Homo sapiens: one gene and its partners. The protein of the gene in region 3 interacts with the protein of the main gene of each other region in a pairwise test. Each region holds a gene or a part of one and is shown on either strand. Other genes may lie near its edges.

What was found.
Region 1: the proteins of ABL2 (region 3) and NCK1 interact in binary tests that used the Homo sapiens proteins (3 or more experiments, as listed by UniProt).
Region 2: the proteins of ABL2 (region 3) and MAP3K10 interact in a two-hybrid assay, tested with the Homo sapiens proteins (one large-scale study listed by BioGRID and IntAct).

What each region holds. Positions count from the first base shown.
Region 1 is NC_000003.12:136,942,066-136,945,714, forward strand, and holds part of NCK1 (SH2/SH3 adapter protein NCK1), read left to right. Parts: intron 1-3,517; coding exon 3,518-3,649. UniProt on the Homo sapiens protein: Adapter protein which associates with tyrosine-phosphorylated growth factor receptors, such as KDR and PDGFRB, or their cellular substrates. Maintains low levels of EIF2S1 phosphorylation by promoting its dephosphorylation by PP1.
Region 2 is NC_000019.10:40,211,827-40,215,475, reverse strand, and holds part of MAP3K10 (mitogen-activated protein kinase kinase kinase 10), read right to left. Parts: intron 2,672-3,649; coding exon 2,500-2,671; intron 2,401-2,499; coding exon 2,288-2,400; intron 2,088-2,287; coding exon of another isoform or gene 1,960-2,087; coding exon 1,255-1,959; intron 827-1,254; coding exon of another isoform or gene 810-826; exon of another isoform or gene 575-809; intron 507-574; coding exon 184-506; 3' UTR 1-183. UniProt on the Homo sapiens protein: Activates the JUN N-terminal pathway.
Region 3 is NC_000001.11:179,104,145-179,107,793, forward strand, and holds part of ABL2 (tyrosine-protein kinase ABL2), read right to left. Parts: coding exon 3,574-3,649; 3' UTR 1-3,573. UniProt on the Homo sapiens protein: Non-receptor tyrosine-protein kinase that plays an ABL1-overlapping role in key processes linked to cell growth and survival such as cytoskeleton remodeling in response to extracellular stimuli, cell motility and adhesion and receptor endocytosis.

The DNA of each region.
Region 1 (3,649 bases), on a different chromosome or scaffold from region 3:
CTGACCTCGTGATCCACCCACCGCTGTCTCCCAAAGTGCTGGGATTACAGGTGTGAGCCCCTGTGCCCAGCCTCTCTTTAGCATTTCTTAGCACAGGTCTGGTAGTGATGAATTCCTTTAGTTTTTGTTTATCTGGGAATGTCTTATGTTCTCCTTCATTTTTGAAGGACAGTTTTGCTAAATATAGAATTCTTTGTTGGCTCTTTTGCTTTCAGCATCAGATCAGATTCTATCCCCTCCCCAGGGCTTATTACTGCTGCTTATTGTGAGTGGTTGTTGTTTGCTTGTTTAGTGACTTTACTAAACTACTTTTATAAGCTCTATATTCCTGGTCATGTGGGGCCGCTGAAGTCTATTCCATTTGCTTAGTAATCAGCTAGGGTTTTAACAGAGTTTCGTTAAACACCTGGAGCCAAAAGAAAAAACAAACAAACAAAAGAAAACCTCTCCCCATCTTTACAGATGGCTTTATGTTGGGGCAGTTTTTGACCACTTAGTGATGCCATTTATAATTCTGCCTTAGCCTTTGCTTACTGTTTGCTCAAAGCCTGAAGATCAGCCAGGGTGAAAGCTTAGGGTCTTCTTGGGCCTTTCCTGAATGTGCATCCAGCCCTGGCCATGTGCACGTCCTTCTTGATTGGTATACACACCCCTTATTACCCCATGTATATTCTTTCCCATCCCCTTTCTGTCCAGGCTTTTCCATCTGTCTGTTCCTTGTCCCAGTTGTTGTCCCTTGCCCCAGGCTGCTGCATCCATTAAATGATTTTTGCAAAAACCACCCAGGAAGACTCCCTATGCCTGGGAATGATTCAAGTCAGGCAAAGCCAAGGCAAGCCATTGCTCAGGTCCTTCAGGGAGCTGCCAGACAAGTTGAAACCCACAATCACAATTGTTTAAGAATGAGATCTGTATTGCTTCCTCTGGCATTAGGAGTGCAGGTTACTGTCCACACAGCCATCACTGACTTGGGGTGTGGGGGATGGTGGGCAGGCAACTTAGGATGCGATAGCACTCTCTTTACCACAAAGCAGCAACTTCTTTCTTTACCAAGCCTTGCCCTAGATTTTATAAGTTTTTTTTTTTTACTAGATTCCAGAGTTCTGCAAAAGTTGAGTCTGACAGTATTTACCAGCTCATTAATTGCATTCATTGCTTTTTGCAGGGACAGTGCCTTGGAGTTCCTTACTCTACTATTTTTGGTGGTATCACCCCAAATGTAGGGATTTCTCTGAAGGCTATCATTAACCGGAAGTAAGAAAATTAGGAAGGAAGAAGTTGATTTAGGGGTATAGACTGGATTATTTTTATTTGGACATGAGTGTTGGGTTTGAGGTACTGATGGCACAATCTGTGGGTGTCTAGTGACAGTTGGAATTGTAATGCCTGAATTCCAGAAAGGTCTTAGAGCTGCAAAGAGATCTGGGAACCTTCTGCACAGAAATTATAGAAAATGAAAGTGTATGATTTCCTTGGAATAGAGAGGAAGGTCAAGTATGTCATCTTGTGAAACACTTTCAGCTAAGGAATTCTTCATTTATTCATTCAGCATGTTTGCTGACTGCTGAATACATAATTTTGTTTTTCCTTTGTTCCTACTACTGATGTATGTACTGCTAAGCGTTGGAGACAGAAACGAATAAGATCTCGTTTTCTGCCCTCAGGAAGTTCACTCATATTGAGGAAGACAGACAAGTAAACAAGTACAATGCAGTGTTATAATAACAAGGTTAGAGGAGCCTAGACAGAGGTAAACAAGAATATGTAAACAGGTTGGGAGGGAAAATAAGAAATTCGGGGAAGTCAAAGAAGAAGAAAACATAATGGAGAGAGTGGGCTGTGATCTTGGTTGCTGCATATAGAGTTTGAGAAGGCTGAGGACTTTAAAAGTTACTGATTTGACAGTAAGGAGAGATGACATAAGAATGGTATTCATAAGAATGGTTTTAATTGAGTAGTTTTGTTAGAATGTTGGAGACAAAGGATCAGATAATAAAGAGTTGGGAGTGTGAGTGGTGAAAAAGTCGAGGGAAAAGGAAAAACAACCTTTTTTTTTTTTTTTTTTTTTTTTTGAGACAGAGTCTTGCCCTGTCGCCAGGCTGGAGTATAGTGACGTGATCTTGGCTCACTGCAACCTCCGCCTGCCAGGTTCAAACGATTCTCCTGCCTCAGCCTCCTGAGTAGCTGGGACTACAGGTGCACACCACTGCACCCAGCTAATTTTTGTATTTTTAGTAGAGACGGGGTTTCACCATGTTTGGCCAGGATGGTCTCGATCTCTTGAGCTTGTGATCTGCCCGCCTCAGCCTCCCAGAATGCTGGGATTACTGGCATGAGCCACCGTGCCCAGCCGGGAAAGACAACTTTTAAAAGAGTGGTATAGTTTATTCTATAGGAAAATTGGACCAGTTAGAGAAAAAATAAATAAATTACCAAAATGTTACGGTTTAAAAGTTGTAGCAGAGTTAAAGTAACTTCATTTTGGAGTAGAAAAGATATGAGTGTGTTTTTAGACAATTGAAGGGACTAAATAGGAAGGAAAACAAGGATGTCGAGAGTCCCAAGAGAGTCAGGAAAGATAGTATTAAGATCCTAGAAGGATCAGGATTTGGAGACTTGAGTGAAGAACGAGAGTGAGGATAATGAGAGTTTTGAGACAAAAGGAATTTGAGAAGTTTTACCTAGGGAAGCCTCAGTTTTCTAGGTAAAGTAGAGCATAAAATCACACGCTAAGAAATGGGCAGCAGTGAAAATGCCTGACTGAAGTTGATGTAGCGTACATTTGTATTGATAGTACCATTTGGTGATTTTCTCATTTCTTTCAACACATATGTGTTAAGCATTTACTGTGTACTAAGCACTATACAAGATCCTTGGGATTCTATCTGTAAACAAACAAAACTCCCTGTCCTTTTGGAGGTTACATATGACTGGGGTAAGGGGAGAAAAACAAATAATATTTTAAAATAAACATATGAGGTAAATAGAGCTACCTGGGTCTGGGAACCAAGAAAGCAAATGGGAAGATTAGCCAGACATAACTGCAATTTTATATTGCATATCATATTCTGATTTAAGATAGAAATAATTTTATTTTTATACAGCTCATTGTAGAATCTAGCTTGCTTAAACTAAGACAAGAAGAGTATGGGTGTGGTGGAGCCTTTGTGTACTTAGATTGTAGCTATGAAAGAAATCTATATTTACATTTAAGAGGGAATTCATTAATTTAGGACAACTTTATAATTATGTTATATAGTTATTTCAGGGCCTTTGACAAGAGAAAAGATGGTGAACTGTCATATAATAACAAATTAAATATTTATTTGGTTAAGAAAAAGAAAATTTGCATCTTATTTCCAAAAAGATGATTTTTAACTACATAGAAATTTGTTATATTTAAAAGCTTTAAAGATCTATATAGAGTTGAAGATCTCTTTTTAATAATGAATAAGTTCATTCTTTTGGTAATCATTTTTTTATATTCTCCTCTCATGGCCCTTTTTAATTTCAACAGGCATTGGAAAAGTGAAAAGAAAACCTAGTGTGCCAGATTCTGCATCTCCTGCTGATGATAGTTTTGTTGACCCAGGGGAACGTCTCTATGACCTCAACATGCCCGCTTATGTGAAATTTAACTACATGGCTG
Region 2 (3,649 bases), on a different chromosome or scaffold from region 3:
GGCACAGGGCTCCACCCCCTGGGGTACAAAGGAATAAGTTAAGTGTCCCCCCCCTCCCTCCTTCCCCAATAAATAGAGTGAACATCCTGCCCAGGGCCTCCCCCACCTTGTGGCATGGCGGGCTGGGGCAGGGCCTGGGGCGCTACATTCATGGCTGCCCAGGCGGGCGGTGGTGGGCAGGCCTTAGTGGGAGCCGTGGGCCCCGCACAGGGGCACTGTGCTGTCTTGGTTCTGCCCCTCCATGTCCATGTCCAGCAGTGTGGGCTGCACGCTGGGGGGCCCAGGGCTCTCCGGAGTGTCTGGCCTGCTGGGAGGCGAGATGGTGAGTGTCCGGCCGAAGGAGACCAGTTTCCAGGGGTCCAAGCGGGGGCGACTGGCAGCCGGCCGAGGTCTCGGGGCAAAGGTCAGGGTGGTGGGGCGGCCTGGGAACTCAGGGGGCCGGCGGCGGGCTGGGAACAGGGCCTGGGGGTCGGGCAGGCGGGGGAAGTCCAGAAGGTCACGAGGGCCTGGTAAGAGAGGTTCAGAGGAGGTGAGTGGGGTGGGGCAGAGGGTGGCATTAAAAAGCCCAGAGCTGTTACATGAAAAGCACAAGTTCTGGTTTCTCTCGAGAAATCCGTGGATCTTGCTGCATCCAGTTTCCATCTGTAGTGTGGCAGTGCTGGGACCTTGACCTAGACTGGGACCACTCCCAGCTGCTTGCTCCTCTGGGTGGACCCTGGCATGTTCCTCAACCTTCTGGAACTGCTGCTTAGCGGCAGCCTCGGGGGCCAAAGCCCTGGTCTTCCCGACTCTCCTGCACTGGGCTAAGCTCAGGCATGGCTTAGCTCTGAAGGGGGATAAAAATGGTGCCTCACCACGCAGGTGAGGAGCAAATAGAATAACCATAACTTAAAACAAGCAGCACAGTGCCTGACGTGGGTACTTAATAACACTGCTATGGCCGCATCTCCCACCCAGTTAACAGATGGAGGAGAACAGTGTCTAGGCTGTGTAAGAATTGGCGATGGTCATGCTGGTCACAACCGCTATAGGCACCTGCCTGGCCTTATAGGCATCAGTTTGCCGCCTGTGTCTCAGTCCCCTGGAGACCCCCGATGCCTCCAGGAGTGAGCGGTAAAGGGACACAGACCCTCCCTCCTCCACAAGAAGCAGGAGGTGGCTGCCTGAGGGGTCGTGGCTGGGCTGGACTTGCGACCCTGGCAGAGGAGGAAAGAAGGGGTTTTCTGTGACCTGGGTGCAGGGCGCCTCACTCACCAGGGCCATGGCCCGCGGGCTCGGGCGGCCCCCGCTGCCCCAGCGCCCCGTCCGATGGCGTCCGCCGGTGCCCGCGGCTCACAGCGCATGCAGCCGTGACGTGGGTGGGCGTGAGCGACTGGCGGGGGTCCTTCTTGAAGCTCTCCAGCTCCAGGTCCACCAGGGGGTTGGTGCTGGGCGAGGGCGTGGGTGTGGGCGCGGGCGGGGAGGGTGGTGGGGAGGGCGCGGCCGGTGCGGCCTCGTCACTGTCAGAGCGCAGCAGTGAACGCGTGGAGTTGCAGTCGGACACGGACGACAGCGACACGAGGGTGGCCGAGGGCGCCAGGCCCAGGCCGGGGCCCACGTCTTCGCGGCGGCCGTGGGGACGCGCGGGTGGGCTGAGGCCCCGCGGGAAGCGGCCGGCGCGGGGAAAGAAGAGGCCGTCGAGCCAGCGCCGCTGCTCCTCACCGTCGGCCGCGCGCGCCTCGGCCACGTCGGCGCCCAGGCCCACAGCCCCCAGCAGCGTGGCGCAGCCTAGCAGCGCCAGGTCGCAGCGCCGCCGGGCGCCGTGTCCCCACCGAGCGGGGGGCGCGGACGGCGTCGGCTCCCACGGCGCCCGCGCCCCCGGGGAGGGCTCGGCAGGCAGTGGCACTGAGAGGTAGGACGGGGTCGAGTAGGGGGAAGGGGGCACGCTGCTGCCTCCATCCTCTGCCTCCGCGAACTCCTCTGCAACCGGAGAGGGCCATCACTCCGCTGCAGGGCTGGCCAGGGCCCCACGGGGACTTGTGCCAAGGGACAGCCCCCGATGACCCCTCCAACAGCAAGACCAAGACCCACGAGCATCGTTCTTGAATCTGTCTCCAGGAGAAGCCTCAGAGAAGGGTGGTCCCTGCCCCTGGAAATGACCCCCCACGCCCCAGGGGCCACCATCTCCCTTCCCAGGAAGGCCTTCCACTCACTGGCCCAGTGAAACCTGGTCTCTTCGCTCAGCCCCAGGAGGCTCACCCCTTTGGCCAGGGAACCCCCACCCCCTTACAAGAACCCAGGCTCTTACCCATCTCATTGAGGCTGGCAAAGCCAGGGGCGATGGGTGTGTGTTTGGGGGACTTGCCCAGGTTGGGGGCACTTGATGACCACTGTTTGCTTCCTTCCCCCAGCCCCTTCAGCCTGCGGGGTCCAGGGAGAGATGGAGACCTCAGTCCTGTGGCCTGGAGCCTGGGAGCTGGGGCTTGGGCACAGGGTGGGCATGACCACACCACACCTCACCTCTCCTCTCCTCCCACCCGCTCCTTCTGCAGGGTGGAGCTGGGCCCCCACGTTCGTCCCTTCTTCTTGCCCCCGACCAGTTCTTCCTTCTTTGGGGGCCCACCGCGGCTCCATGTCCCACTTCCTCCACTGCTGCTGCCACTGCTGCTGCCACCACAGTCCACGGGAGTCACTGGGTCCAGAGAAGCCACTTGGTTACTGGGTGGAGGATCTGTCCCCACTGGGCTCCCAGCCTCCAGTGCCCCCAGCTCAGGCCCACCCTCCGCCTGGGAGTCCAAGGGCTCTTTTGAACTCCAGTCATGACCCTCCCTGCTATATATCTCCCCATAGCCCCCTACTGCTGTCAGGACAAGGTTCCAGCTCCTCCGCCTGGCACTGAAGGCCATGAGCGGTTCCCTGCCAACTCCTCCAGCCTCCCCTCCTCTTCACAGCCTAACCCTTCACCATTCATTCTGGCGGGCTGCCTGCGCTTCTGGTCTCCAGCTCTGGGTAGTTAGTTCCCTGGGGGTCAGCTGCCTTCATCTCTGTACCTGCAATGCTCTGGACCTATCTGGTGCCAGTGTTTGCTGCCATGGTATGGGTATTTGTCTCTGTGTCCCCTGCAGGACTGACCTCCTGGGCCTGGTACAAAGCAGGTGCCCAGACAGAGGGCAGGGGGGCTGTGGGTGGGGACAGTGCTGGGGTGAATGAGGTGTTGGAACTTGGGAGCTAGCCTTTCACCCTTCAACCCACCAGGAAACTCCGATGACCGTGTCTCTGCCATATAGCCCCGACTGTGGACATCTGTCCCTTCCAAGTCCCCCACCCTGGCCTGGCCTCCATCATCTCACTGCTTTCTCCACCTTTATTTCTTACAGCAGCCAGAGGGAAAAAGGTCAATTTGATTCCCTCAGTGCCTTGCTCGCATGGCTCTGGGGGCTGCCCCAGGGCAGTTAAAAGAAAATCCATACCAGGCCAGGTGCGGTGGCTCTTGCCTGGAATCCCAGCACTTTGGGAGGCCCAGGCAGAAGAATCACTTGAGGTCAGGAGTTGGAGACCAGCCTGGCCAACATGGTGAAAACCCCATCTCTACTAAAAATACAAAAATTAGCCAGGCATGGTGGTGCAGGCCTGTAGTCCCAGCTACTTGGGAGGCTGAGGCAGGAGAATC
Region 3 (3,649 bases):
ATTGTGTGCCAGGCACTTGAGCTAAGTATCTTACAAATATCATCTCATTTAATCCTTACAACAACCCTGAGGTAGTTACTATTATTATCCCTGTTTTACAGTGAGGAAACTGAGGCTCCCAAGGTTAAATGACTTGCCTTTTAGACTGGCATTAGAGCCTAAACACTAAACCACTATCTATACTGCATCCTTTAAACTCAAAATCTCCATGACTTTAGTTAAATAAAAATGGGCAGTGCCTTAGCAAAGTCAGCATGCTTTATTACCTGGGACATATTTTACTAGCCAATTTTCAGTTGAATCCTAAGAAACTTTCTATCTAATTTAAATCTTAAAATGCTGCTGGTAAAGGGTCTCCACTATAATGACCTCTATGTACAGAGGTCATCTAGAAAAACACTGAATGAATTTCTTAGGGCCAAATTTTTTAAGGCTAATCTCTGAAAATCATGATGGAAGTCTACAGGAAAATATATACATTTAAATTTTACACAAAGCCTTTTAAGAAAATACTTTAGGTAAAGCACAATCAAGATGTATTCAACACAAATCACTGCATTTTAAAGTGGGAAATCTAAACTGAAGTAATATTATCTGTACATGAAAGGAATCAAGCAGTGGCAGCCCAAAGGCATGCATCCAGATATACAGCATAACCACTTTAGAAAACTGTCAACGCCTTGGACAAGGGCCTTTGCTCATTGCTTTTAGAATAGTTAAAATTAAACTACACTTTTCCAGAAGCAGTTCTCTCTGCTTTGGATTCAAACCTTTTAATTTACATAAGGGTTTGTGTTTAAGCTGGTCCTTTTCAAGTAGAAAAAGGAAAAACCTAAATTATGCTTGTATAGTAAGTTGACAGTGCCTCTTTAACCTGAACCTTGAGCCCTCAACCCCTGAAGTTACATAGTTCAAGCATCATGTGGACGGGGTATGCTCCAATAGTCAATGCCACTCTTGACAGTGTTGACAAAAATCAATTCCATTTATATATCGTGCACCCACTGTAGGCAAGACAGCTAGGTGCTGCCCCTGAGTAAGACACAGCCCCCACCCCCTACCCTTCAGATTGTTGTTGGGCAAGAAAACCAGGGAGCCTAAATACACTCAGTAGTGTTTCTCCAAGGCTTAGTTCCAGAACTCTCAAGGGAAAATAGAGCCCTTGCTTAAAAAACAAAAAACAAAAAAACCCTGAAAAACAATTACAATCCCTTAACTTGCATCCCACAACAACAGGGATAAACCTAAAAAGCAGCATAATAATATTCTACAGTTTTAGCTTTCCCATCCTCGACCTTAAAAGGCTAGCTGCTAAAACGAGTTCTTCAAGTTTACGGACATGTATGATGAGCAAGAATGGCAGGAAAGAAGGTGGGAGAAGGACCGCTGGTTTTTACATCTGAGTTCTCTTCCAACCACTAGGAGGAGATGAACCCAATCACTAGCTGCCTGTGCTGCAACTGCAGGTGACATACTGCGGGGATCACCCAACACCTGCCAGGAATGCCCAGCACCGCGTGTCTCCTCTAATCCTCTTAACCTGGGCCTCCTTTGGAGCAGCAATGGTAAGAATCAAGGTTTCCTTTCTTTCCAATGAAAACTCAATTTTGTTCTTGGTCAAAAATGCCAAACTCTATTCAAAACATAGTTTTCCCCTTAGTATTCTAGCCCAATTCATATAATCTCAACAATTCTTAATTTCATTAATATTTTCTACTCAGCAAATAAGATAATGGAAAACAATTCAGCATAACAACACTGCACTAAAAGAGCTTTCCAGAGAGGCTCTCCAAGGGATAGCTGCACACTTACTTGCAACACCCTTGAGAACATGTACTGTTACCTTAATTAAATAGATTAAGAGATGAGGCTGTGGTTTGACAGTGTATCAATGACAGAGCCAGAAGAAAACTCAGTGCTCAATGTTGAATTCCTATCTTCCTAAGCTAATATTCCTTTGAGAGAATAAAATAAAAATATGTGTGTATTGAGCTCTCCTTGGGGAGGATGGGGGAAGTATTCATAAAGCTTTAAAAAGAGAATGAAGCAGTAACTGGAATTAGACCCGATACCAAGAACATTAATAATACCTAACTCATTAGATTCACTTCCATGCCATCCTAATTAGCTTCCACAATTATAACTAAGGAAGGAAGGAAAAGGCCTATTTTTCAAGGGCAAAACATATTTAAGGATTAAGTCATTAGGTTCCCAGGGTCTACCTGGTGCTCCCTGAAAATGACTACTCCTTCAATTATGCATTCTTAAAATAGAAGTGAAATGACAAAATAAATAAAGAATATTCCCAATAAGATCTGTACAAATAAGCACAATGATTGGGTGGGGGAGTAGGGAGGAATATGTGAGAGAAGAAAAGCATGTGAGAATAATGTGGGGGTGATTCACTTCAAATCCATAGAGAGGAGAATGCCTCTCCCTATTCTCTACCTGGATTGGGCTTAAGGTGGTAAGGGAAGGGAAAGGTACAGAGAAACAGCCATTAGGACCAAGCCAGCTTTTCCTCTCAGTCACATACAGGCCACTGGGTTTCAAGAAAAGACCATCTCCCTGGTATTTTAGTTGATAAAGAAAAATACACAGCTGCTCAAGTCCTTGGCCAGTATGTCAGTATGCAGGGGAACTGTATCAGAACAGGATTCATTCCTTTGTGAGAACCTGTAGGGACTACTATTTTCAAAATCAACACTGGTTAATGCTCTGAATGCTACCAGGAATAAAGGAAGACAGCCTGCCCAGCAAAAGACAGAGAAGAACCACTAGGGAGACCCCTGTACTTATGGTTTACAGATAGCCACCAACAGGCAGGAAGCCGATCCTGGTCCATTATGAAATAATATACCAGACTGGGAGAAGTGACTTCTGCTAATCTGTGTAAGATTTTAGAAGGTTTTCAATTTCTGATTCAACTTTCCAGCATTCTTTACTTCCTGCACTAACTGATACACCAGCGGAAAATAGGACAGAGGCATTCAGATAGGGCCATATTTCCCAGTTTTATGTTGTAGCACTCTGATTTGCAGTTCTTATTACAGCAGCAATGGCCTTGTGGAAGCAAGGCTAACAGCTACTTCCAACAGCCCTGAACAAAAATTTCTCTTGGTACATTCCCAGCTTTCTTTTCTGCTGTCCCACCAAATTCATTAGGTAAATTGGAGCATAATCACCATTAGTACCTACCAGAGCCCCAGGTCTGGGTGCAGCTGCTGCAGTCTTGCTGAGAGCAGCCCTGCCTAGCACTTCCCAGCATTCCAGGTAGGGATGGGCTGCATTGCCTTCCTTATGACATACACATGTTCCCTATTTTCCAGTGCAGTTTCCAACCCTGTCCACTACTGCCTTGCCCCCACTTAATTTACCTCTCCTATACTTATGTGGTTTGCTTCTTATTTTTGAGATGAAACTGTAAACGTGAGAACTCAGGGATCTGAGGTACTTCACATAAACACACTCAAGTATGAGTCTTTCATTTTCTGAAAACAAGAACACAGGAAAACAAGTCCTTTTCCCTCTCCCCTCAGAAATGTGTGCATTTTCCCACCAGGCTAACAGTGGCTACCTCTGCACCACATCACTGATTTCCTGTACACATGACAATAAGTTATTAAGGACAGGGTTTGTCCCGGGCACA